5 separate regions of the Homo sapiens genome follow, and all the other regions are linked to region 4. The links come from fine-mapping of genetic effects on gene expression. A gene starts in region 4. Each other region holds a variant in brackets. All regions are shown on one strand. Distances are between the middles of the regions. Region 1 overlaps P2RX4 (purinergic receptor P2X 4). Region 2 overlaps ANAPC5 (anaphase promoting complex subunit 5). Region 3 overlaps P2RX4 (purinergic receptor P2X 4). Region 4 holds the start of CAMKK2 (calcium/calmodulin dependent protein kinase kinase 2). Region 5 overlaps CAMKK2 (calcium/calmodulin dependent protein kinase kinase 2).

Region 1 (5,094 bases), 76 kb after region 4:
AGAGGCCAGGCACAGTGGGTCATGCCTGTAATCCTAGCACTTTGGGAGGCTGAGGCGGGTGGATCACCTGAGGTCAGGAGTTCGAGACCAGCCTGGCCAACATGGTAAAACCCATCTCTACCAAAAGTACAAAAATTAGCTGGGCGTGGTGGTGCATGCCTGTAATCCCAGCTACTCGGGAGGCTGAGGCAGGAGAATTGTTTGAAACTGGGAGGTGGAGGTTGCAGTGAGCCGAGATCATGCCATTGCACTCCAGTTTGGGTGACAGAGCGAGACTCTGGCTCAAAAAAACAAAAAAACAAAACAAAAAAAAAAACAAGAAAAAACAACAACAACAACAAAAAAAAAAACAGTAGGGCAAGAGCTGGGATGGCTTGTGGGGCTCCAATGACAGCAGTGAATGTAGAGGGGCTCCAGGACCCCAGCCTCGGCACCTGGCTCACCCAGGGTCATGTGAAGGAATTGGGAAGATTTCTCTATCAGAGACGCTCCACAGTGGGGGCGATCTGCTCAGGGGCCGCCCTCCCCAGGAGGCCACAAGCTCGTACCGTTGCTGTGGGTGCCGGCAGAGCCGGCAGTACAGCTGGCATCTGATTTACACACAGTGGTCGCATCTGGAATCTGGAAAAAGAAGGAGCGAAAAGAAAGTCCACGTGGCCCGGCCCCACACACAGGTGGACAGGCGTGGAGAGGGGTGTGGGGCCTGGGGCTCTTCCCGGGGGCCTCCTACCTCGGGGCACAGGCCCTGTGTCTGGTTCATGGTGAGGATCACGTTGGTCATGACGAAGAGGGAGTTTTCCTCCTGCAGAGGGGAGACAGCACGGGCAAGCCACGCTCAGAGGACTCACGGAGAGCCAAGAAAGGCAGACGCTGACTGAAGAGGACAACTCAAACACTGACCGCGTGCTCTCCCGCTCTCTCCCATCAAAGTTTATAACCCAATGGAAAACAGTGACTCAAACAAGTCCTTGTACATAAATATTCAGAGCAACACTTTTCACAAGAGCCAAAAGGTGGAAACAGGTCGGGCGCGGTGGCTCAAGCCTGTAATCCCAGCACTTTGGGAGGCTGAGGCGGGCGGATCACGAGGTCAGGAGTTCAAGACCAGCCTGGTCAACACAGTGAAACCCCCGTCTCTACTAAAAATACAAAAATTAGCCGGGTGTGATGGCGGGCACCTGTAGTCCCAGCTACTTGGGAGGCTGAGGCAGGAGAATTGCTTGAACCCGGGAGTCGGAGGTTGCAGCGAGCCGACATCGCGCCACTGCACTCCAGCCTGGATGACACGAGACTCTGTCTCAAAAAAAAAAAAAAAATGGTGGAAACAGCCCAAATGTCTGTCCTAGTCTAGTCACATGATGGAATGTGATTCAGCCATGAATAAAAAGGAATGAAGGGTCCAGGCATGGTGGCTCACACCTGTAATTCCAGCACTTTGGGAGGCTGAGGCAGGAGGATCACCTGAGGTCAAGAATTCCAGATTAGCCTGGCCAACATGGTGAAACTTTGTACTAAAAACACACACACACACACACACACACACACACAAACACACACAGACACACGCACACACAAAAGGAGCCGGGTGTGGTGGCGGGCACCTGTAATCCCAGCTACTCAGGGGGCTGAGCCAGGAGAATCACTGGAACCTGGGAGGTGGAGGTTGCAGTGAGCCGAGATCACGCCAGTGCACTCCAGCCTGGGTGACAGAGTGAGATTTCATCTCAAAAAATAAAATAAAGGAATAAAGCACTGATACAGGCTACAACATGGATGAACCCCAAAAACATGATGCTGAGTGAAAGAAGCCAGACACAAAGGCCACACAGGATACCATTACATTGATGTGAAATTTCCAGAACAGTCAAGTCCATAGAGACAAAGCACTTACGGGTTGCCAGGGAGTGAGAGAAGTGGGGAATGGGGAGTGGTTGTGTAACATACGAGGCTTCCCTTTGGGGTGATGGAAATGTTTTGAACTAGATAGAGGTGATGCTTGCATAACACTGTGAATGCACTAAATGTGCTGAATTTTTCATTTTAAAATGGTTAATTTCTTTCTTATTTATTTATTTATTTGAGACAGAGCCTTGCTCTGTCGCCCAGGCTGCAGGGCAGTGGCACGATCTTGGCTTACTGCAATCTCCGCCTCCTGGGTTCAAGCGATTCTCCAGCCTCACCCTCCTGAGTAGCTGGGACTACAGGTGTACATCACCACACCTGGCTAATTTTTGTATCTTTAGTAGAGATAGGATTTCACCATGTTGGCTAGGCTGGTCTCCAACTCCTGGCCTCAAGTGATCTACCTGCCTCAGCCTCCCAAAGTGCTGGGATTACAAGCATGAGCCACTGTGCCCGACTTAAAATGGTTAGTTTCTATAAGTGAATTTGACTGCAGTTAAAAAAAGGGGGGGGTCTGCAAACTGAAACAATGGTTTCTCAATCAAACTTGACTTACTGAGGGAAAGAGCCAACAAGTGCTAAAAACATTCCCTGCCAACCAGATTATCTCAGAGGAATAAAAACATGAGGCCTCATGGGGCTCAAATCTGGCTGGTTTTCTTTCCTAACTGAAATTATAAATCAAACATTCTAGAGAAGACTCGGTCAGGGTCAGCAAGTGACATTTCTCTTTGAAAAGGTTCTGTTTCCTCCTTATATGTATAAAGGTGCCAAATAATTGATTTAGAGTTTCTGGAAAGCAATTTGCTAGGGATGAGACTGAAGAATTGCTGATAATGACCTCCTCATATAAGGAATAAAAGGCAAAGACCCCAAAAGATTCTAGTTGGATCCTCCTCTCATTGGGGGCTGGTGTCCATCCATCTAATCTAATCTATCTATTATCTGTCTATCTATCTATCTATCTATCTATCTATCTATCTAATCTATCCTATATCTATCATCTGTTTTCTATTTATCGATTATCTATCACCTATCTAATCTATCCTATCATCTGTCATCTATCCTATCCCTTTTCTTTCTTTTCTCTTCTCTTTTCTTTCTTTCCCTTTCTTTCTCCTATCCTATCATTTATCTATTCTTTCTTTCTTTCCATCTATCTATCTATCTATCTATCTATCTATCTATCTATC[TA/A]TCCATCCATCCATCCATCCATCCATCCATCCATCCATCCACCACCCATCCAATCAAGATGGGGTCTCACTATATTGCCCAGGCTGGTCTTGAATCCTGAGCTCAAGTGATCCTCCTGCCTTGGCCTCCAAAAGTGCTGGGACTACAGGCGTAAGCCACTGCGCCTGGCTGGGCCCAGGCATTTTAAAAGGAGATGCCCAAAGCTTTTAGCATTTCACACTCCTGAGGATAACAGTCAGTAGTGGGAGCCATCTTGGGGATCAGGGCAACTCAGAAACCAACCAGTCTGTAGACATCCCCAACCCCACGGTCTGACAAGTGGTGGAAGCTCTAGAAATAGCTGGCGTCCTCCAAAGGCCTAGGGCAAACTATGTTGGGAGACAAGGAGAAGGCCACAGGAGGAGGCGTGAGGATGTGGCATGAGCTGCAGCCTCTCTCCCGCCACCTGTCACGTTCCCAGGTGTTCAATGTACAAACACACTCTGCATTTGGTGTTAGAGAAGGCCGCTCCTACGACTCTCCTGAGTTATACTTGGAACAATCCAGTATGGTCTACTTTTCGTTTCCTATCTCTCCTTCTTTCTCTCTCTTTTAGAGTTGGGGTCTTGCTCTGTTGCCCTAGCTGGAGTGCAGTGGCGTGATCACAGTTCACTTCAGCCTCAAACTCCTGGGCTCAAGTGATCCTTCTGCCTCGGCCTCCAAAAGTGTTGAGATTACAGGCATGAACCACCACATCTGGCCTGTTTCCTATCACTTATCTACTTCAAATTAAGGGTAATTTCAGTCTGGAGATGAGCCAAGGGGCTGCAAATAGATGACTGTGTTCCATCTACAAAGAACACAGACGTCGTGAAAGCTCATGAGGAAAGCCCTGGGGAACTCACACGGCCCCCGCCCAGATCCACCACGGAAGGCTGAGTTGTGGGGTGCTCCTTTCCACCAAGGGACAAAAGCGGGGCTTGTGCCCTTCCTCATCTGCCCAGTAAACACACCGAGCATGACATTCCCAGAGCTCACCGGGACAAGGCTATGCCTGCACAGGAGGCAACCGTCTCTCTGCTGAGACAGGTACATGCTAACAGGACTGCCCCCTCCAGCCAACTGCAAATCCCCTGTTCCACTTGATCTTTTTTTTTGAGACGGAGTCTTGCTCTGTCACCAGGCTGGAGTGCAGTGGCACTATCTCGGCTCACTACAACCTCCGCCTCCCAGGTTCAAGAGATTCTCCTGCCTCAGCCTCCCTAGTAGCTGGGACTACAGGCACCCACCACCACACCCCACTAATTTTTGTATTTTTAGTAGACAGGGTTTCACCATGTTAGCCAGGATGGTCTCAATCTCTTGACCTCATGATACACCGACCTCGGCCTCCCAAAGTGCTGGGATTACAGGCATGAGCCACCGCACCTGGCCCTTCCTCCTGACTTTTATGGCTCATTAGCTCGGTCTCCTCTCTGGGGACCCCACAAGACCCTTCTCTTGAGAAGGCAGGGGGAAGAACACACCTGAAGAAAGAGTTTCTGGAGTTCTTGTTTTCCCTGGCAAGAGCTCTGAGCCAAGAGTTGGCAGCTTATCTCTACTGGTCGCCCTCGGTCCCTTAGCACATAGGCCATCTGGAGGGCTATGTCGGGTTTGACTGTGTGGTGCAGAGCTGTTACCAGGACTAAAGAGTCAATGTTTAACTTGGAGCTTTGCAGATTAACAGCCTGAAGACTAGTATGCAGCAGTAAACAATGTCTTCCCTTCCTTTCGCTCCCGATGGAGTCCTGTGCTGCTGTCTCTGTTTCCTTCTTGTTTGGGTTTTGGTCTCTAATGGTCTCTAATTCTTTTCTTTTTTTTTCTTTTTTTTTTTTTTTATAGAGATGGGGTTTCACCACATTGCCCAGGCTGGTCTCAAACTCCTGGGCTCAAGGTATCTGCCCGCCCCAGCCTCCCAAAGTGCTGGGATTACACACGTGAGCTACTGTGCCCGGCCTAAAGTTTTTACACTGTCTGAAA
Region 2 (5,000 bases), 44 kb before region 4:
GCTGGAGTGCAGTGGCGTGATCTTGGCTCGCTGCAACCTCCACCTCCCGGGATCAAACAATTTTTCTGCCTCAGCCTCCTGAGTAGCTGGGACTACAGGCACGCACTACCACACTTGGCTAATTTTTTGTATTTTAGTAGAGACAGGTTTTCACCATGTTGGTCAGGATGGTCTTGATCTCTTGACCTTGTGATCCACCTGCCTTGGCCTCCCAAAGTGCTGGGATTACAGGTGTGAGCCACCGCGCTTGGCCTCCTCGATGTTTTCTTCTAAGAGTTTTTAATTTTTTTTATTTAAAAATGTATTATTTATTTTTTATTACTAGCAGGTGGAAGGAAGATCTTCTAAGAGTTTTACGGTTTTTGGCCTCACATTGAGGTCTTTGAGTCCTTGGCCTCACATTGAGGTCTTTGAGTCCTTGTGAGTTAATTTTTGAATATGGTGTTAGATAAGGATCCACCTTCATGCTTTTGCATGTGGATGTGCAGTTTTCCCAGCATCATTGGTTGGAAAGGCTGTCCTTTCCCTATCAAATGGTCTTGGCACTGTTGCCAAAAACCATTTGACCATGCATGCCAGGGCTTCTTTATGGGCTCTGTGCATTGATCTCAACATCACTTTTTATGTTTTTCTTTCCTAGTTCTGAGGAGAGAGTTAAATTTTTTGAACTCTTTCGATACAAGAATCCATCTGATTTTATAAATGTTATCATTTTTACTTTTGTGTAATTCTTTACTATTTTTGTTTTTTTATTTTTTCCAGAGAAGAGGAGGTATCTTGCAGTGGGCCTCTGTCCCAAAAACAAGCAGAATTTTTTCTTTCTCAACAGGTATGTGAATTCTGTAATTTATCATGAACTTCTGTTCTAGTCCTGTGATGTGTCTAGTCCTGTGATGTGTGTTGTGGCATAGGCCCGTTATGTGCATAGGTTTGTTGGTCAGTCTGTGTCAGCCTTTACTCTTGGTCCCCTCTGCCTCACTAACGAAGCACTTGTAGCTCTGTGCCCCTTCCTATTTTGTGTGTGATTTTATTTTTCTATTAAAGTTATAATCCAGGTTTCATTTAGTAATGGTATGTGACTAACAGCCTAAAACCCTGTGATTTAACCCTTCTCTCAACATTTTATTATAGACATTTGCAAACATAAAGAGAGCCTGAAAAGCAGTGTATGGTAATTACCCATACCTATTACCTCGATTCTACAATTAATATTTTTGTTCTATTTATTACTTATCTAACCACTCTCTATTCAGCCACCATTTCATCTTATTTTTTGATATATATTTCCAGTTGCAGATATTAATACACTTTGCTCCAAACACTTCTCTCTTTTTTTGTTGTTTTTGAGACAGAGTCTTACTCTGTTGCCCAGGCTAGAGCATTGCCCAGGCTGGAGTGCAGTGGCATGATCTCGGGTCCCTGCTACCTCTGCCTCCTGGGTTAAAGCTATTCTTATGCATCAGACTCCCAAATAGCTGGGATTACAGGCGTGCACCACCACACTTGGCTAATTTTTGTATCTTTAGTAGAGATGGGGTTTCACCACATTGGCCAGGCTGGTCTTGAACTCTCGATCTAAGGTGATCCACCTGCCTTGGCTTCCCAAAGTGCTGGGATTACAGACATGAACCAGCGTGCCCCAAACATTTCTTTTTTGTTTCTTTTTTTTGAGACGGAGTCTCACTCTGTCACTGAGGCTGGAGTGCAGTGGCATAATCTCAGCTCACCGACACCTCTGCCTCCCGAAGTGCTGGGATTACAGGTGTGAGCCACCACGCCCAGCCCAAACATTTCTTATGGATGCTTTTCAGCCATATTTTTTCATTTTCTTGGAAACATAATCTGAACATTTTTCTGTGTTATTTTCAGCATAGAATTTTTAGTTTTTGCTCTATTTTTCTACTTTTCCCTAATTTTGTTATGAGCTTTCTGCAGAAAGATGTAATGTTTATATCTAGACAAAAGTGATGGAGGCTGGGCATGGTGGCTCACGCCTGTAATCCCAGCACTTTGGGAGGCTGAGGCAGGCGGATCACAAGGTCAGGTGTTTGAGAGCAGCCTGACCAACATGGTGAAACCCTGTTTCTGCTAAAAAAAACACACACACAAAAATTAGCCGGGTGTGGTGATGCCCGTCTGTAATCCCAGCTACTCGGGAGGCTGAGGCAGGAGAATCGCTTGAACCCGGGAGGTGGAGGTTGCGGTGAGCGGAGGTTGCAGTGAGCCAAGATTGCGCTACTGCACTCTGGCCTGGGTGACAAAGTGAGACTCCGTCTCAAAAAAAAAAAAAAAAATTTACGGAATTACCTCTGCAGATGAATTTCAAACAGATTAGAAAAACCTGTCTATGTGATTGGTTAACTGTAAGGAAAAAGTACAGCTGGATCCTTCCTTACCTTACCTTGTACCTCAGTATATTACAGATGGATTACAGGGTTAAATGTAAATATTTACAGCTTTAGTTAGATAATTAGGCTAGAATGAGCTACACATTGTTGGTTTTTTTTTTTTTTTTGAGATGGAGTTTTGCTTTTGTTGCCCAGGCTGGAGTGCGGTGGTGATCTCAGCTCACTGCAACCTCTGCCTCCCGGGTTCAAGCGATTCTCCTGCCTCAGCCTCCTAAGTAGCTGGGATTAGAGGTGCCTGCCACCACAGCTGCCTAATTTTTTGTGTTTTTAGTAGAGACGGGATTTTGCCATGTTGGGCAGGCTGGTCTCAAACACCTGACCTCAGGTGATCTGCCCACCTCGGCGTCCCAAAGTGCTGGGATTACAGGCGTGAGCCACTGCG[C/T]CTGGCCAGAGCTTTCTAACATAAAAGCTATGGAATACTTCAGAGGCTGAGGCAGGAGAATCGCTTGAACCTGGGGAGTGGAGGTTACAGTGAGCCGAGATCACACCACTGCACTCCAGCCTGGGCCACAAGAACGACACTCCATCTGGGAAAAAAAAAAAAAAAAAAAAAAACTGGAAGAAAACATGTAGGAGAAGATAATTTGATTTTCAGAATAAAAATTGAAAGCATCTCCATGTCAGGACTTGTTTTAACATAATTAACAGGCAAACAGGATGGGCGTGGCAGCTCATGCCTGTAATCCCAGCAATCTGGAAGGCCAAGGCGGGTGGATCATTTGAGGTCAGGAGTTCGAGACCAGCCTGACCAACATGGTGAAACCCCGTCTCTATTAAAACACAAAAACTAGCTGATGTGGTGGCATGTGCCTGTCGTCCCAGCTACTTGGGAGGCTGAAGCAGAAGAATCGCTTGAACCCATGAGGCGGAGTTTGCAGTGAGCCAAGATTTCGCCACTGTACTTCAGCTTGTGCGACAGAGCGAGACTCCTTCTCAAAAAGAAATAAAATTAAAAAATTAAAAGGCAAATAACAAAGGTGTTCTTGGGCTCCAATACTTTGGGAAAAAGTATTTACAATAAATATGACAGTGAAAGTTTAGATTTTGGTTTTGGTTTAGAAATCACATTTTCAGGCCGGGCACAGTGGCTCATGCCTATAATCCCAGCACTTTGGGAGGCAGAGGCAGGTGGATCACCTGAGGTCAGGAGTTTGAGACCACCCTGGCCAACATGGAGAAGCACTGTCTCTACTGAAAATACAAAAAATTAGCCAGATGTGATGGTGGATGCTTGTAATCCCAGCTACTTGGGATTCAAGAAGAATCACTTGAACCTGAGAGGTGGAGGTTGCAGTGAGCCAAGATTGTGCCACTGCACTCCAGCCTTGGCGACAGAGCAAGACTCTGTCTCAAAAAAAAAAAAAAAAAAGAAAAAAAAGTCATATTTGATGATGAGACAAAGTTTACAATATAAAATGAAAAGAACAGGAAATAAAGTTACATATCATATTCTGATTTTGTTAAAAATATAATGTGTATATACACATTATATAAATTTGGAATACACCCTGTATTATAAACATATATTGTGATTTTGTTAAAAATGTAATGTATACACAATATATGTTTACAATACAGGGTATATTGTAAATTTATATAATATGTATACACATATTTTTAACAAAATCAGAATATGATATGTAACATATATACACACATACAGAACAAAGACTAGGATAATATACACTAAAGTATTAATAGCGTTATTTCTGGGTAGTGAGATTGCAGAAGATTTTTGTTTTCTTCTGTAGGTTTTCTATATTTTTGGAATAATTTTTCCCCATACTACACCTACATAATAATTTGTTTTTTGTTTTGTTTTGTTTTGTTTTTTTGAGACTGAGTCTTGCCCTGTCACCCAGGCTGGAGTGCAGTGGCGTGATTTCGGCTCACTGTAATCTCTGCCTCCCGAGTTCAAGTGATTCTCCTGCCTCAGCCTCCCGAGTAGCTAGGATTACAGGTGTGCGCCACCACACCCGGCTAATGTTTTGTATCTTTAGTAGAGACAGGGTTTCACTATGTTGGCCAGGCTGGTCTCCAACTCCTGACCTCATGATCTGCCCTCCTCGGCCTCCCAAAGTGCTGGGATTACAGGTGTGAGCCACCACGCCTGGCCAATAATTTTCTATAATGACATAAATTAACAATGGAATTAGAAATTATTTTTACTTTAAAAAAATTTTTTTTAAAGAAATTATTATTTTTAAATAGAGATGAGGTCTCAGTATATTGCCCAGGTTGTTCTTGAACTCCTGGGCTCAAGCGATACTCATGCCTCAGCCTCTGCCTCCCAAAGTGCTGGGATTACAGGCATCAACCACCACACCCTGCCCTTAGAAATTATTTTACTTATAGAAAAACTCATCTAGGTAAAATTGGAGTTAAGTGTCTATAACCCAGTTAAATGTAAACATTTAATTTGTAGCTAACTTTCTACATATTTTATATAATTGTTGCTGATATCGTCCATATGAAACAAATAAGTAGAGCTGGGGCAAGCCACCTGGCTCCCATAAGGCCCCATACAGGCACTGGAAATACAAGAAGCAAACACATTACCTGCCTGGAAGGAGCTTACAGTCTGGGGTGGGG
Region 3 (5,151 bases), 62 kb after region 4:
GAGGTGAGGCTCCAGAAAGTTAAGTCAGTTGTCCAAGGGTTAGAATTTGCCAGCAAAACCCTTCTGGTTTTCTTTTTTGAGACAGGGTCTCGTTCTGTCACCCAGCCTGGAGTGCAGTGGCAGTCTCGGCTCACTGCAATCTCCACCTCTCAGGCTTAAGTGATCCATCCACTTTGGGTTCCAAAGTAGCTGGGACCACAGGGGCCCACCACCACACCAGCCCCCACACCCAGATAATTCTTAAATTTTTTATAGAGACAGAATCTCACTATATTACCCAGGCCTGGTCTCAAACTCCTGGACTCAAGCAGTCCTCCCACCTCAGCCTCCCGAGTTGCTGGGACTACAGATGTGCACCACCATGCCTGGCTAATTTTTAAATTATTTGTAGGGATGAGGTCTCACTACCTGTTGCCCAGGCTGGTCTCAAACTCTTGGACCAAGTAATCCTCCTGCCTCAGCCTCCCAAAGTGCTGGGATGACAGGCGCGCATCACCACACCCAGCCTCCTGCTGGTGTTCATGGCATCTAGAAACACACCCGCCCCTCACCCCAACACTGGCTTGCTTTCACATTTGTTTTAGAAAAGAGGCTAAACAGCATCTCCCCCACTTCGGAAGACAGCCAGTGACCATCACTCCTTGACGAGCAAGATCATAAACACACCCATTGCCCTTAAGTCTGTTTTGTGCTGCTGTTACAGGGACCTAAGACTGGGTAATTTATAAAGAACAATAATTGATTTCTCACATTTCTGGAGGCCAGGAAGTTCAAGATCAAGGTGCTGGCAGGTTTGGTATCTGGTGAGGGCTGCTCTCTGCTTCCAAGAGGGTGCCTTGGTGCCGCATCCTTTGGAGGGAGGAACACTTGTCCTCGCGTGGCAGACAGTGGCAAGGCAGACGGGGGATGAGCTCCCTCTCTAGCCCTCGTATAGGGCACCAACCCCATTCATGAGGGCAGCGCAATCCTGACTCAGTCACCTCCCCAAGGCTTCACCTCCCAATAAGGTTGCCTTGGGGATGAAGTTTCCAAAATGTGAATTTTGGTAGACACATTCAGCCCATATCACCATTCCTAAACATTCCAGCTTCATTTGACCCATGTGCCTAAGCAAGCACTTTTTATTTTTTCAGACAGGGTCTCACTTTGGTGCCCAGGCTGGAGTACAGTGGCACCATCATAGCTCACTGCAGCCTCAACCTCCTGGGCTCAAGTGATCCTCCGGCCTCAGCCACCCAAGTAGCTGGGACTACAGATATATACCGCCACACCCGGCTAATTTAATTTTTTGTAGAGATAGGGTCTCACCATGTTGACTGGGCTGGTCTTGAATGCCTACGCTTAAGTGATCCACCTTGGCCTCCCAAAGTCCTGGGATTACAGGCAACAAGCATTTTTTTTTAAAAGGCAGCATGAACCAGAGCTTCAATAAAGGGAGTTGGTAAACTTTTTTTTTTTTTTCCAAAAGCAAGAAAAGCCCAGGTTGGCCATTTATCCAGCAGAAGCAGAGTATTTGTAAAATAATGGTTCCTCTCAGTACTTGGAAGTGAATTCATGGCAGAGGCGAAGGGCAAACTGCTTCCTCTAGGGGGATTCTGAATACCTGATGCAGAATTCAGCTGGTGTGTGGCTGGGTGCAGTGGCTCACGCCTGTAATCCCAGCACTTTGGGAGGCTGAGGCGGTGGATCATGAGGTCAGGAGTTCCAGACCAGCCTGGCCAACATGGTGAACCTCTGTCTCTACTAAAAATACAAAAATTAGCTGGGTGTGGTGGCAGATGCCTGTAATCCCAGCTACTTGGGAGGCTGAGGCAGGAGAATTGCTTGAACCCAGGAGGCAGAGGTTGCAGTGAGCCGAGATCATGCCACTGCACTCCAGCCTGGGCAATAGGGCAAGACTCTGTCTCAAAAACAAAAAAACACAAACATTTAGTTGGTGTGAAGCTGCAGCTGGAAATAGCTTCATGAACATTTCGAACCTGTGCGGAGCTAGGTATGCGTGCTGCTGCTTTTGGTTGGAGACTTTTGGGAAGCAAACAGGGAAGGGAGAGGAAGCCACTTCCATGTTACCAAAAATTGTGTTACCCACAGCATAGAATTGTAATTTTATGTCAAAATGGAGGCACAGGTAAGATGTCACTAGAGAAAAAGTGTCCTGTGAACTGTGCAGGAAGACAAGCTAATGACAAATTATTAGGCTTTAAAAAGTAGGCAGCTGGGTGCAGTGGCTCATGCTTGTAATCCCAGCACTATGGGAGGCTGAGGTAGGAGGATCGCTTAAGCCCAGGAGGTGGAGACTGCAGTGAGCAGTGATTGCGCCACTGCACTCCAGCCTGGGTAATAAAAAAAATAAATAGGCCAGGTGTGGTGGCGCACACCTGTAATCCAATCACTTTGAGAGGCTAAGGCAG[A/G]TGGATCATTTGAGGTCAGGAGTTCGAGACCAGCCTGGCTGGCCAATGTGGTGAAACCCTGTCTCTACTAAAAATACAAAAATTAGCCGGGCATGGTGGCATGCACCTGTAATCCCAGCTACTCGGGAGGCTGAGGCAGGAGAATCGCTTGAACCCGGGAGGCAGAGGTTGCAATGAGCCGAGATTGCACCACTGCGCTCCAGCCTGGGCGACAGAGTGAGACTCTGCCTCAAAAATAAAATAAATAAATAAAGAAGTAGGGGAAAATGTGCATAAGTGCCAGAAACAGACCATCCCATGGACCTTTTCTGAGCACAGTGAGCCGGAATAGTGGATTTACTGGTTGTCGTAAAAGGGTAGGAAGGAAAGTTCTAGCACATGCTATGAGACAACAGACAGGGATTAAGAAAATCACGCTTTAATGTCTGGTCCTCGATCACCTTAGCACAGCGCTTCTCTGAGGAGAAATGCCAGCTCTGCCGCATGGCTGCAGGGAATGGTCGGGGGGAAGCCTGCAGCCCAGGCCTGCTACAAGTCTAGTGACTGCAGCCAGGCGGCCTCCCCTGCCGCATAAAGTGCTTGAACAGAGCCGCCGTGCCTCAGAGGACTGGGCCTGTCCTGGAGAGAGCTGGAGACAGGAGGCTTCTGAGCAAAGCCAGCTCCAGCCCTGAAAGCCACAGCAGTGCCACTGCGTCGGGCCAGCGCTCCCCCGACAACCCCAGGTTGCGGGAAAAGCAGAGTTGACCCAGCCAAGAACAGACTGCTGACCTCCTGGGCCGAGTGGGCAAACAGATCCTGCACACAACACACAGGAGCTGCTGGGGAACCCTGAGTGCTTGTGGAGTGGAGACTCAATCAGATTCCAGAAATTTCTCTGGGGTGATGTGGTGGCCATTTCTCCCTCCTCCTCCTCTCTGTTCTTTGATGGGGCTGTGGAGAGCCCAGGTGTGGGGTAGGCCTCACTGGTCCAGCTCACTAGCAAGACCCTGCAAAGAAGGACACAAGCAGATCAAGGTGCCCCTGGGACCCCTTGTGGCAGGCGGGAGGGAGGTGCGCTCCTGGGACTTCACCGCCAGGGGTTCTCAAGTTGGTCCCAGGCCTGGAACCCAACCCTTCCTGTTCCGCAAGGTGCACTGAAGTAGTGTGTGCCCACAGGCATTCTCAGAGCATGCATTATCATCACCAACCTGAGATGTCGCTCATTGAAACGAGGCTGGGTTTAAAGAGTCAATCTAGTACAGGGGCCTAGGGATGGAGCAGCTGCTGAGAGTGGCAGGACTGCCCGGGTTAACGGGGACACCACGCCACACTGGTGCCAGCCTCTGCAGAAGGGCCTCCCCAGACAGGCCCACGCCCAGGGCTCCCACACCCAAGAGATGAGAGGCCTGTGCCTGCTGGGGGCCAGGAGGGGCCTACCTGCTCGTAATCTTCCACATATTTATATTTCTTCTCCCGATAGTAGAGTCTTTTCTTCATGCAGTAGAGGACTATGATGTCACACAGCACGGTCGCCTGAGTTTAGCATAGGGTGAGAGTGAGCCAGGATGCTTGCAACCCATCAACCCATCTTATTCTTTGCGTGCCCCTTCCTGAGAAGCCTGGAATCTTTACCGGAATGGAAAGGCACTCCCATCTCTTGGGAGAAGGCTGGGACCTGAGGGGGGTGGTCTTGGAGAAGGGAAGGTGGGAGGAGGGCTGGGGGCCAAGGGAAAGAAGGTAGGAGGGTCAAGTTTAGAAACACATCTGAGGTCTAGGGCCTAGGGCCAGGACCAGGACCCCAGCCCAGGGTCTCACCTCACCGTGAGGGTGAAGGCAGGGCCTAAACCACTCACCATGCCTAGCAGTGCCAGGCCAGAGCCGATGTTGATCATAGTGGGGATGATGTCAAATTTCCCTGCCTGCCAAGACACCGAAAAAGAAAAAAAGTGTTTCTGCAGGGGCAGGGAGAGGCCCCTTGTCCCTGCAGGGAGTGACGGAGGGGAGCCAGTGGCGGCGAGCTACCTTCCCAAACACAATGATGTCGAAGCGGATGCCATAGGCCTTGATGAGCGTGCGCTGCTCGTTGCCAGCCAGGTCTCTGTAGTACTTGGCAAACCTGAGGGGAAGGAGGATGGATCAGGGGGAGATGGCTGGGGCAGGACCTTGGGCCCTGTGAGAGAACGTTAGAGTGGAGCTGGCACAGGTGAATGGTCCACTCTGCCGGCTGAATGGACGCTGGAGCGGCTCGGGGCCTCTCCTGGCTGAGGCGGGCTGTGCAAGCAGGAGGATGCGGGGCCCACGAGGTACAGGGGCACAGGGAGACCTCCTCCTCCAGCACCAGTGTCCTCTCCTGAACCTGAACAGTTTGCTCTCAACATCCCACCTGGTACATCCTGCCTGCCTCCCTCAAGGGACCCTGACCTCCAACATCTAACAGTAAGAATGTGACCAGCCAGCATTGCAGGAGGGGACTAAGCCAGCCCCAACACAGCATCAGTGCAGGGACTTTTTTTTTTTTTTTTTTTGAGATGGAGTCTCCCTCTGTTGCCAGGCTGGAGTGTAGGGGCACCAATCTTGGCTCACTGCAACCTCCACCTCCCCAGTTCAAGCAATTCTTCTGCCTCAGCCTCCCGAGTAGCTGGGACTACAGGCGCACACCACCATGCCCAGCTAATTTTTGGATTTTTTAGTAGAGACGGGGTTTCACCAAGTTGGCCATGATGGTCTCAATCTCTTGACCTAGGGCTTTTTAAATTTATTT
Region 4 (5,085 bases):
AGGCGTGAGCCACTGTGCCCAGACTTTTTTTTTTTTTTTTGAAACAGTCTTGGTCTGTCGTCCAGGCTGGAGGGTAGTGGTGCGATCTCTCTGCCTCCCGGTTCAAGTGGTTCTCGTGCTTCAGCCTCCTGAGTAGCTGGGATTACGGGCACCGCCACCACACCGGGCTAATTTTTGTATTTTTGATAGAGATGGGGTTTCACCATGCTGGCCAGGCTAGTCTCGAACTTCTGGCCTCAAGTGATCTCTCCGCCCGGGCCTCCCAAAGTGCTGGGATCATAGGCGTGAGCCACCATGCCCGGCCTCAGGTTTTTGCCATTTCCAGCAAATGCATGCACGTTGAGTAACATCAGAAGAGGTGGATGGCCGAGCATGTTGGCTCATGCCTATAATCCCAGCACTTTGGGAGGCAGAGGCAGGAGGATCACTTGAGCCCAGGAGTTTGAGACCAGCCTGGGCAACATAGGGAGAACTCTGTCTCTACAAAAAATAGAAAAAATTAGCCAGGTGTGGTGGTGTGTGCCTGTAGTCCCAGCTACTCAGGAGGCTGAGGCTGGAGGATCACCTGAGCCTGGGGAGGTCGAGGGTGCAGCGAGCCGTGATCGTGCTACTGCACTCCAGCCTGGGCAACACAGAGAGACCCTGTCTCAAAACAAACAAACAAACAAACAAACAAACAAACAAAAAAAACAAAGAAAAAAAAATGGGAGTGGGCCGGGCGCGGTGACTCACACCTGTAATCCCAGCACTTTCGGAGGCCAAGGCGGGTGGATCACGAGGTCAGGAATTCAAGATTAGCCTGGACAACATGGTGAAACCCCATCTCTACGAAAAATACAAAAATTAGCCAAGTATGGTGGCCGGCGCCTGTAATCCCAGCTACTCGGGAGACTGAGGCAGAGAACTGCTTGAACCTGGGAGGCAGAGGTTGCAGTGATCCGAGATCGCGTCACTGCACTCCAGCGTGGGCGACAGAGCGAGACTCCGTTTCAGAAAAGAAAAAAAAAAAAAAAAAAAAGGGAGTCGGGGTGGAGCTCTCATTGGCTCGTTGCATGTGAGTGTCCCTACGGCCTAGAAATACAAGAGAAGCACATCGGAACGGGCTGGAAATCCACCCAGTTAACTAGAGGGCTTTGAACCTTTTATTAACTTGGAGGTTGACTCTCCTGTCAACTCGATTCCCTTTTGGCTGTTTGGCAGGGTCAGTGAGACATCCCCTGGGTCGCTCGACCCCGTAGGACGGTTCAGGGAGCCCTCCAGGTCTTCGTTTCTCCTCTTCCCCGCACAGTGCTGTTATCCAGCTGGGGGATCCAACGCACACTTAAGGCTCCAGCAAAGTAAGTGCCAAAAAGGGGAGAATGGGAAGAATATGCTGTATTTCACAAAAAGCATCTAAGTAGCCATCTGGAAAAGCCAGAATGAACTTCAATGGTGCATCCAGGTGGGCTGGGGATGGGAGAGGAACGCCTTCCCCCAGCCTTTAGGGCCGGCCCTGAGCAAGTGGTCAGTCGGCAGGCAGCTGCGGAAGGGGGCTCCCCCGAGTCGGTGGTGGCCCAAAGTCCAGGCCGCATCCACCGCCCGGCGCCTAGCGCAGGGGCAGCAGCCGGGTCGCCACAGGAGGGGCCCCGGGTGTTCTTGCCGGCTTGGGGGAACTTTCCCAGGGTCAGCCCGGAGGCGCCCTGCAGCCCCGGCATTTGGCTAAACAAAGCAAGCGCTGCCGGCGCGGCCCGCCCGAGGGCGCCGCGGGAAGAACCTGGGCAGGTGCGCGCCGCGGGCGAGCGGGTACAAAGTTGCGGCGCCACCTCCTGCGCTCCGCGCCCCTCCAGGCTCTCCTCCCAGCCGCCTCCGATCCTCCCGGCCGGGCCTCTCTTCCCCCGTTCTTCGCCTCCTCCCTTTCTGCTCCTTGCCCTTCGCCTCTTCGCTACTTTCGTCTTTGCAGGCTCCCGCCTCCCCACCCCTCCCCGGCGCAGGGCCGAGCCGGCGGGGGCGCGCAGGGGGCGGTGCGCGGCGGGCGCGGGCGGTTCCGCTTTCGGGTTTCCCGCCGCCGTGGCCAATCCCCGCGCTGCCCGGGGCGGCGACGCGCCCAAGCCGAGCCGGGCGGCTCCTCCCGCCCCCGCCCCCCGCGCGCCCGCCGCCCGGGCGGAGGAGAGGAGCGCGCGGCCGCGCAGAGCAAGCTGAGCCGAGCCGAGCCGAGCTGGGGGCGCAGAGCGCGGGAGGCGGCGGCGGCGCGGAGCCCAGGTGAGCTGGCGGTAGCCGGGCCCGGGGCAAGGGACGCAGCCGCCGCGGCCCCGGGCGCCCGCTCCGTTTCCCTCTCGAGGCGGGGGACCGCCGCCGGCATGGCACACAAAGCCCGGAGGCTGGCCTGGGGCTCCCAACACGGAGGGACCCCACGTGCGCCTCCCCACGCCCCGCCACGTGGAGGGACACGGTCCCCGACAGCCCTTCCCCCGCGTCCTCTGGGCGCCCTGGGCCTCGGGATGGCCTCCTCGGCTGGGCCGCGCCCTGTCCGGGTGGCAGGGGCGGTCCTGGAGTTTGGAACCGGGGTCACCGGGGGCCGGGTCCGTCAGGGTTCGTGGAGGCGGCCTAGGCCCAGCCCCTCGCGTTTGACAGGTGGGGAAATCTGGAGCGTTCCGGGGAAGAGAGGACCAGCGGACTTGGAGCACCCCCACCCCGCAGCCTGCCTGTCTCGGGGCAAACCCAGGCCCTGGTGGCTTGGACACCAGGTGGCAGGACCCTAGGCCAGCAGTTGTGGGGACCTAGGGGACCTTTGGCTGTCTTCGGTCTGCCCTTTGACCACCCCCACCGCACCTCTTCTCTCAGCCGGAGCCTCACAGGCTTGGTCCTTCTGACCTAAATTCACCTCGGGGTTGCAGTATGCTGTGAATGCGGAGAGGCGTCCGCCTGACTCTCAGGGACACTGGACCCAGCCCCTCTCAGCATTGGGGCTCTGTGCCTGGGGTGCCACCCGACCCAGCCTTGAGCTTTTCCTGGCTTTCCCCCAGCCCCTGCACTGCCTAGCTGGGGAAGTGGGTGCTTTCACAGCTCTGCCAGCCTGCCCTCCTGGCCACTCTCACTTAGTGCTGGACAGGATGCAGCTCAGCCCCTCCGATCTCCCCGAGAAGGCTGAGCTTTGGGGAGGGCGTCTCAGTGCTATCAGCAAGAGAGGGATACCTGGCCTCCGGATGGGACCTGCAGCGTCCATCTCCCTACAGGCTACTTTTACCTTCCCCAGCCTGGTGTTTGGAGTCTCCACGCAGGGGATAGAAACTTCAGGTGCCCTAGAGCTGTGCTGCCATTTACCACTCCCCCTCCCCTAGCTCTGCCCCCAGAGGAGAGAGAAGAGGATGGCTTTATGTCCCCATAAGCTCCTTTGTTCCTTGGAGGAGGCGGGGGCTGCAACAAGGGGAGGGCTTTGGGGGAGTTAGCCACCCTCTTCCCTAATCACCCCACAAAAACATGCAGTTTCAGAATAAATAGTGTGCATGCCATGCAAATGCAGCTTTAGGGCAAGCCCCACATACCCCTTCCAGACTGCTGCTCATACACCCTTCCTATGGAGGAAGCAGGCATTGGTGACACACACCCTTCCTATGGAGGAAGCAGGCATTGGTGATGAGGACGCAAAACATATTTTTGTAATGAAGAGTAATAGCCATCATTTGATGAGCCCCTAACTTGGATAATAATAAGAATACTTATTTATTTATTTTGAGACGGAGTCTCTGTTGCCCAGGGTGGAGTGCAGTGGCACAATCTTGGCTCACTGCAACCTCCGCCTCCCGGGTTCAAGCGATTCTCATGCCTCAGCCTCTCCAGTAGCTGGGATTACAGGCGCCCACCACCATGCCTGGCTAATTTCTGTATTTTTAGTAGAGAAGGGGTTTCACCATGTTGGTCAGGCTGGTCTTGAACTCCTTACCTCAAGTGATCCGCCTACGTCAGTCTCCCAAGTGCTAGGATTACAGGCATGAGCTGCCACCTGGCCCTGGACAATAATAATAATAACAGTATTAAAAACTAACATCTATTGAGTTCTTGCTGCCTGCCAGATTCTGTGCTATGTGTTACATGCATTATCTCATTTAATGCCTACCAAATCCTACAACGTAGGGAATTTTAACCCCATAGTAGAGATTAGGAGACTGAGGTTTACAGAAATCCTGCAGTGTTGCTAGGATTTAGCCCCATTTTATAGAAGGGCTCAGAGAAGTTAAGTAACTTGCTCAGGGTCACACAGCCAGTGCAGGCATGTCAGGCCTTAGAACCTTTGTGCACCTGTTCAAGAGCAGAGACCCTGGCAAGGCTGCCCTGAGCTTCTTGAGGAGCCCAGGAGTTTGTTTTGTTTTGTTTATTCACTACATCAGTGTTTGCCGATGCAGCTCTATGCAGGGTCTGTAGTACTGCCCATCCTTAGATATGGCTAGTGGGCTGGTAGCTAAATATAGTCACTAATAACAATGCACTAGTTCTCATCCGGGGGTGGTCCCACCCTCCTGGCAGGGATTTGGGAAAGTGTGGGGGCGACTTTTGGTTGTCAAAATGATGCTAAGCACTCCTGGCTTTTAGTGGGCGGGAGTCAGGGATGCCTACTAAAGTGTCCTGTAGGCAGGCCAGGGCCACGACATAAAGAATCACCCTCCCCTGGCTGGGCGTGGTGGCTCACGCTTGTAATCCCAGCACTTTGGGAGGCCGAGGCAGGAGGATCACCTGAGGTCAGGAGTTCGAGACCAGCCTGGCCAACATGGTGAAACCCCATCTCTACTAAAAATACAAAAATTAGCTGGGCGTGGTGGCACACACCTGTAATCCCAGCTACTTGGGAGGCTGAGGCAGGAGAATCACTTGAACCTGGAAGGCGGAGGTTGCAGTGTGCTGAGATCGTGCCATTGCACTCCAGCGTGGGGCACAAGAAGGAGACTTCCTCTCAAAAAACAAACAAAAAACAAAAAAAAATCACCCTCCCCCAAATGCCAGCAGTGCCACTGTTGAGAAACACCACAAGGAATGAGTGCTGTTGTGATCGAAGGAGCACAGGGCACTGAGGGTTCTGGAGAAATCTCCTCAGACTGGTGTGAATCTGGGAGG
Region 5 (5,151 bases), 53 kb after region 4:
AAAAGTCAGAAGCTCTGTGAATTCCCAAAACAGCTTGAAGGGGCACCGTGCCCTGGTTGGGGTGGGGTGAGGGGCCCAGTGACTCTTATGGGGCCCTCAGGCCATTCCCTTCATGGGAAATGGCAGCCAAGAGCATCACCAAGAATGACTGGTTCACGTCCTTGCTCCAGAACTTTCCGGGGCTCTCTGGCTGACCACAGGCCAAGTTCCAGACCCCTCTGGGTGGGGATGCTGAGTCAGGGAGTGAGGGGACCAGATCTGGGTTTTGGAAGGGATGGGAGGGAGGGAGGTGGAAAGCAGGGAGGCCTGGGAGAGACGCTGAGCAGTGGCTGAGGGTGTGGTGCAGGACAGCACCTTTTCCCAGAGGATTCTTTCGGCGGGGGTTGGTTGCGGGGTGGTGCTGCCCAGTTTCTCTCAAAGTCTGCCATCGGTCACCAGCCCTGGGAGCTGGCAGGGGCTGGGGAGAAGGAAGAGGGAGGATGTTGCCCAGAATCGCCCCCACATGGCCAAGCAGTTGCCTGCCACCTCCTCTTTTCTCCCTCTTCAGATCCTGGTGAAGACCATGATACGTAAACGCTCCTTTGGGAACCCATTCGAGGGCAGCCGGCGGGAGGAACGCTCACTGTCAGCGCCTGGAAACTTGCTCACGTGAGTGGCCGCCTGCCTTCTTGGGTGGGGGAGTGGTGGCTGGAGGCTAGGCTTGGGGCAGCCCTGCCCAGACCACTCTGCACAGGTCCTCCCTGAAGTGGTGCCATCTGGAGAGACTCAGATGAAACCCACCTGGTGCACTGGGACAGTCAGCACCCCAACCTGGGCTCAGCCCACCTCCTTTTGCTGACAGCTAATCCACCTGAAGTTTACCTTTCTCGGGAACTTGCACTGTAGCTGGGGGGCTCTTGGTCAGTCAGAAGAAAAGCACTTTTGTGGCCCGGGACCGTGAGTGCCTGATGGGGAGGTTTGAGGCTCTGTGCTGGGCGAGCAGTGTGGTCTCACTCAGGACCCTGTGTGTCCATGCAGAGAGGTGTCCACTCATCTGCTGTCAACGCCACCCTGGCTCCAGCTCTATGAAGCTGGTGTTTGGGGTCTGAGTGTCTCAGGGTGGGGGAACGGGCATCCCGTGGATCCCAAGGGTCCCTTCTCACTTCCCTTTTCCCTCCCTCTGGTGATTCCAGCAAAAAACCAACCAGGGAATGTGAGTCCCTGTCTGAGCTCAAGGTAACGCCCGCCTGCCTGTGCCGTAGCCTCTGCTGGGGCCTGAGGGGGGCGGGTGGGCAGCTGCAGAGCACGGGGGCATCCCCACCCGGGCAGATGCTCCTTCCAGCCTGGGCTGCTGTGGCCCGGCTCACCGCGGGCCTCCAGACCCAGTATTAGAATGAGGGGCCTCGGGGGCTTGGACCCAATGGTGGGTCATGCATGTGGGCTGGGGCTGCGGGTGCATGGCGCTCCAGCTGGAATGCCTGAGAATGCACCCAGGTCTGAAGATCCTGTGTGGCACCCATGTCTTCTCAGTGCACGTCAATGGTGTTGAAGCTCTGTCACAGGGCCCATGGGTGCCCCCCCGAGTCCGCATGGTCAGCACATAGGTCAGGCATGCTGCACTGTGTGGCTCTTCGCTAGGGGCTCTCCAGCCTCCACTTCTCTTTCTTTGATGTGTTTAGACCTAGAAAATAAGTCCCCTTCCTGCCTGTTGCAAAGTAACGTAAGAGTTCCCTCACCCGAGTGGATGCAGACCTTCTTGCTGTCAGCCACCCTTCCTTCATACACATAGCCAGCCCAGGTGACCAGAACCTCCCAGGACAGATGAGGCTTTGTGTCCTTATGAGACTGGGAGAACCTGCTGGGCACCCCTGCTGCAGGTGCTGTGGTGGGTGGGGACCCCACTGCCCTTCCCACTGAGCACATCATGGCTACCTGACTTGGTGGGAGCTCCAGGCAGTCACTTCTGTTTCTTAAACATAGCTTTACTGAGGTACAATTCACATACCATGTAATTCACCCACGGGAAGTGTATGATTCAGTGGTTTCTAATACAGACTTCTGCAGCCATTACCACCGTCAACTTTACGACATTTTCATCAGCCCAAGAAGACACCCTACACTCCTTAGCTGTCCCCATCCAACTCCCCCACCCCAGTAACCACTCAGAATAGGTATGGATTTGCCTATTCTGGACGTTTCGTATAAATGGCGTCATACACTACGTGGCCTTCTGTGTCTGGCTTCTTTCTCTCAGCATCATGTTTTCAAGGTTCATCCATGCTCTACATGTATTAGTGCTTCATTCCTTTTCATGGCCAAATAAGATTCCATTGTTTGGATGCACCTCACTTTGTTCATCCATTCCTCTGTGGATGGACTTGTCTCCACCTTTTGGCTATCGAATGAAGACTGATGCTATGAACATTTGTGTACAAAGTGTTAGGAGTTGGCTTACGAGATGAAATGGATTGAC[T/C]AGCAGGCTGGATGCAGTGGCTCACGCCTGTAATCCCAGCACTTTGGGAGGCCGAGGCAGGTGGATCATGAGGTCAGGAGTTTGAGACCAGCCTGGCCAATATGGTGAAACCCCGTCTCTACTAAAAATACAAATATTAGCCGGGCATGGTGGCGCACACTTGTAGTCCCAGCTACTCGGGAGGTGAGGCAGGAGAATCACTTGAACCCAGGAGGTGGAGGTTGCGGTGAGCTGAGATCACGTCATTGCACTCCAGCCTGGGCAACAAGAGCAAAAATCTGTCTCAAAAAAAAAGGCTGGGCGCGGTGGCTCACGCCTGTAATCCCAGCGCTTTGGGAGGCCAAGGCAGGCGAATGACGAGGTCAGGAGATCGAGACCATCCTGGCTAACACAGTGAAACCCCGTCTCTACTAAAAATACAAAAAATTAGCCGGGCGCGGTGGCGGGCGCCTGTAGTCCCAGCTACTCGGGAGGCTGAGGCAGGAGAATGGCGTGAACCCGGGAGGCGGAGCTTGCAGTGAGCCGAGATTGCGCCACAGCACTCCAGCCTGGGCGACAGAGCGAGACTCCGTCTCAAAAAAAAAAGAAAAGAAAAAGAAATGGATTGGCCACCCATCCCGTGGGAGTCAGGGCTTATATGGTAATCTAGGAGGAACACCTGTTTGGGAATTATTTATGCTTTTGAGAGAAACCTTGCCCTCCAGCATAGAGCAGGGAAAATGGCAGTCCTTCAGAACCGGTCTTCAGCAGTCTCAGAAGGCAGACACAGTCCCCAGCTTGTGCCCAGACAGACGCCTGGGCAGCCCCGCCTTGGGTGTGAGCCTCACGGATGATGGAGTGGAAACCCAGCGGGCTGGCCTTTCCTCGGCCTTCCTCCTCTCAATCTCCATTTTAGGGTTTGCCAAACCGGGGCTGCCTCCTGTCTCTGAGCAAGTCTGCTGTTGGTTTCTTTCCTATTTTCTTTCTTTCTTTCTTTCTTTCTTTTTTTTTTTTGAGACAGGGTCTTGCACTGTTGCCCAGGTTGGAGTGTTGGAGTGTAGTGGTGTGATCTCGGCTCACTGCAACCTCTGCCTCCTAGGCTCAAGCGATTCTCCTGCCTCAGCTTCCTGAGTAGCTGGGTTTACAGACATGTGCCACCATGCCCAGCTAATTTTTGTATTTTTTTAGTAGAGATGGGGGTTTCACCATGTTGGCCAGGCTGGTCTTGAACTCCTGACCTCGGGTGATCTGCCTGCCTCAGCCTCCCAAAGTACTGGGATTACAGGCATGAGCCACTGTGCCCGGCCTTCGTTTCAATGAGATCAAAATTGCAAGACACCAGCAGATGGAGACTGGCCCCAAAGGGCTATGCTGCCCCTTCCTTTCTTCACCTGGGATCCCCTGCCCTCAGCCCCCAGCAGGTAGGATGCCTTGGTCATGGGAGCTCACAGAGCTGATTCAGGCACTGGGGGTCTTGGACTGGGGGCCTGCCTGCCGTCTGCAGTAAGACCCAACCCCTACCAACAGGCAACTGCGAGGGCAGAGACTGAGGGCCTGACCTAACGTCTAGTTACAGCGCCCCCCTCCCCAGGGACCTTACCCACATTCTCCATCAGAAACATAGCAAGCCAGACATCACGCTTCCTTTCCCTTGTGTAAGGACAGTCTCCCTCCTGGACAGGAGACACGGATTGTTGTGGGGGAAGGACAGACAGTAACCCATGTGGCATGCCCAGTGACCTCCCTAAGAACAGGGGAGCTGTGTGATGGTGGTGAGGGGATAGGCTCGGGGATTCCCCTCGCACCTGTCACGCCATCCACGCTGTCACACCGGCGGCTCCAGCCTGGGCTCTTCAGGGAAACAAGGGCTCTCCTCCTCCCACTTCCAAGAGGGAAGGGGCCTCCTCTTCTGTCTGAGGTGCTCCTCCCTCAGGGCTGGCTGCAGGAGGGCTGAGGCGGGAGGATCCCTGGAGCAGTTGTCATCTGCCCTTTCTTGAGGGCCAGCTGTGTGCCAGGCCAGGCAGGGGAGGCTCTGATCACCCCCACACACAAGGAACTCAACATCTGGTGACTGAGGACAAGCGTCACAGTCCCTTCCCTGTAAGGGCTCATAGCCTAAGTGGGGGATCGAAGTACCTAAAAACCTGGTATGACAGGCGCCGTGGGGTGGGGGGTGCCTTCTACTTGGGATTTGTGCAGTGAATTTTGGTGTTACATAGTTTTGGAACTGTTGTACGGGTCCTTGCTATTTTTGGCAAATGATGCTGGTCTTTCATTTACAGAGGGGCTGCGTGCAAAGTCTCCTTTGAAAAATTTATGTGAGCAAGGAAAAGGGGAGAGGATCTCAAAGACTGGGTTACGTAGATCACGTTCCAGGGGGTGCGCGACGGCCCACTTGGGCAGGGGGCCCAGATGTGGGAGCAGCTGGCTCAGGGCCTCGCTGGCATTTCTCAGAGTCTTAATGTTGGTTTTCTGTTCGGTGAGCAGGAAGCAAGGCAGCGAAGACAACCTCCAGGGCACCGACCCGCCCCCCGTGGGGGAGGAGGAAGTGCTCTTGTGAGAGGCAGTCCCTGCGTGGAAAGTTGCTGGGCCCCCGCCCCCGGCTCCCCCGCACGCATGCATCCACTGCGGCCGGAGGAGGCCATGGAGCCCGAGTAGCTGCCTGGATCGCTCGACCTCGCATGCGCGCCGCGTCGCCTCTGGGGGGCTGCTGCACCGCG

Evidence for each region. PIP is the estimated chance that this variant, and not a neighbour inherited with it, causes the effect.
Region 1: its variant is fine-mapped to the expression of CAMKK2 in monocytes (Fairfax 2014, PIP 0.95).
Region 2: its variant is fine-mapped to the expression of CAMKK2 in whole blood (TOPMed, PIP 0.99).
Region 3: its variant is fine-mapped to the expression of CAMKK2 in sun-exposed skin (GTEx, PIP above 0.99).
Region 5: its variant is fine-mapped to the expression of CAMKK2 in blood mononuclear cells (TOPMed, PIP 0.95).

The regions. Positions count from the first base shown.
Region 1 is chr12:121,217,621-121,222,714 of GRCh38, reverse strand. P2RX4 (purinergic receptor P2X 4) reads right to left here. Exons shown (of 12, transcript NM_002560.3): 3 at 731-802; 4 at 549-621. Among named protein-coding and RNA genes, the nearest start is that of P2RX4, 10 kb to the right of the region's middle. The variant TA/A (reference allele first, on the strand shown) is at 3,096.
Region 2 is chr12:121,337,832-121,342,831 of GRCh38, reverse strand. ANAPC5 (anaphase promoting complex subunit 5) reads left to right here. Exons shown (of 17, transcript NM_016237.5): 5 at 763-829. Among named protein-coding and RNA genes, the nearest start is that of ANAPC5, 12 kb to the left of the region's middle. The variant C/T (reference allele first, on the strand shown) is at 2,791.
Region 3 is chr12:121,231,769-121,236,919 of GRCh38, reverse strand. It overlaps P2RX4 (purinergic receptor P2X 4), which reads right to left. Exons shown (of 12, transcript NM_002560.3): 9 at 4,413-4,506; 10 at 4,244-4,309; 11 at 3,828-3,923; 12 at 2,814-3,397. The coding sequence ends at 3,371. Among named protein-coding and RNA genes, the nearest start is that of P2RX4, 24 kb to the right of the region's middle. RefSeq lists an enhancer at 2,551-3,178. The variant A/G (reference allele first, on the strand shown) is at 2,412.
Region 4 is chr12:121,293,791-121,298,875 of GRCh38, reverse strand. It overlaps CAMKK2 (calcium/calmodulin dependent protein kinase kinase 2), which reads left to right and starts at 2,167. Exons shown (of 17, transcript NM_001270485.2): 1 at 2,167-2,238. RefSeq lists a silencer at 1,482-2,631.
Region 5 is chr12:121,240,637-121,245,787 of GRCh38, reverse strand. CAMKK2 (calcium/calmodulin dependent protein kinase kinase 2) reads left to right here. Exons shown (of 17, transcript NM_001270485.2): 15 at 548-648; 16 at 1,173-1,215; 17 at 4,919-5,151. The coding sequence ends at 5,089. Among named protein-coding and RNA genes, the nearest start is that of P2RX4, 33 kb to the right of the region's middle. RefSeq lists silencers at 1-4, 4,943-5,022. The variant T/C (reference allele first, on the strand shown) is at 2,453.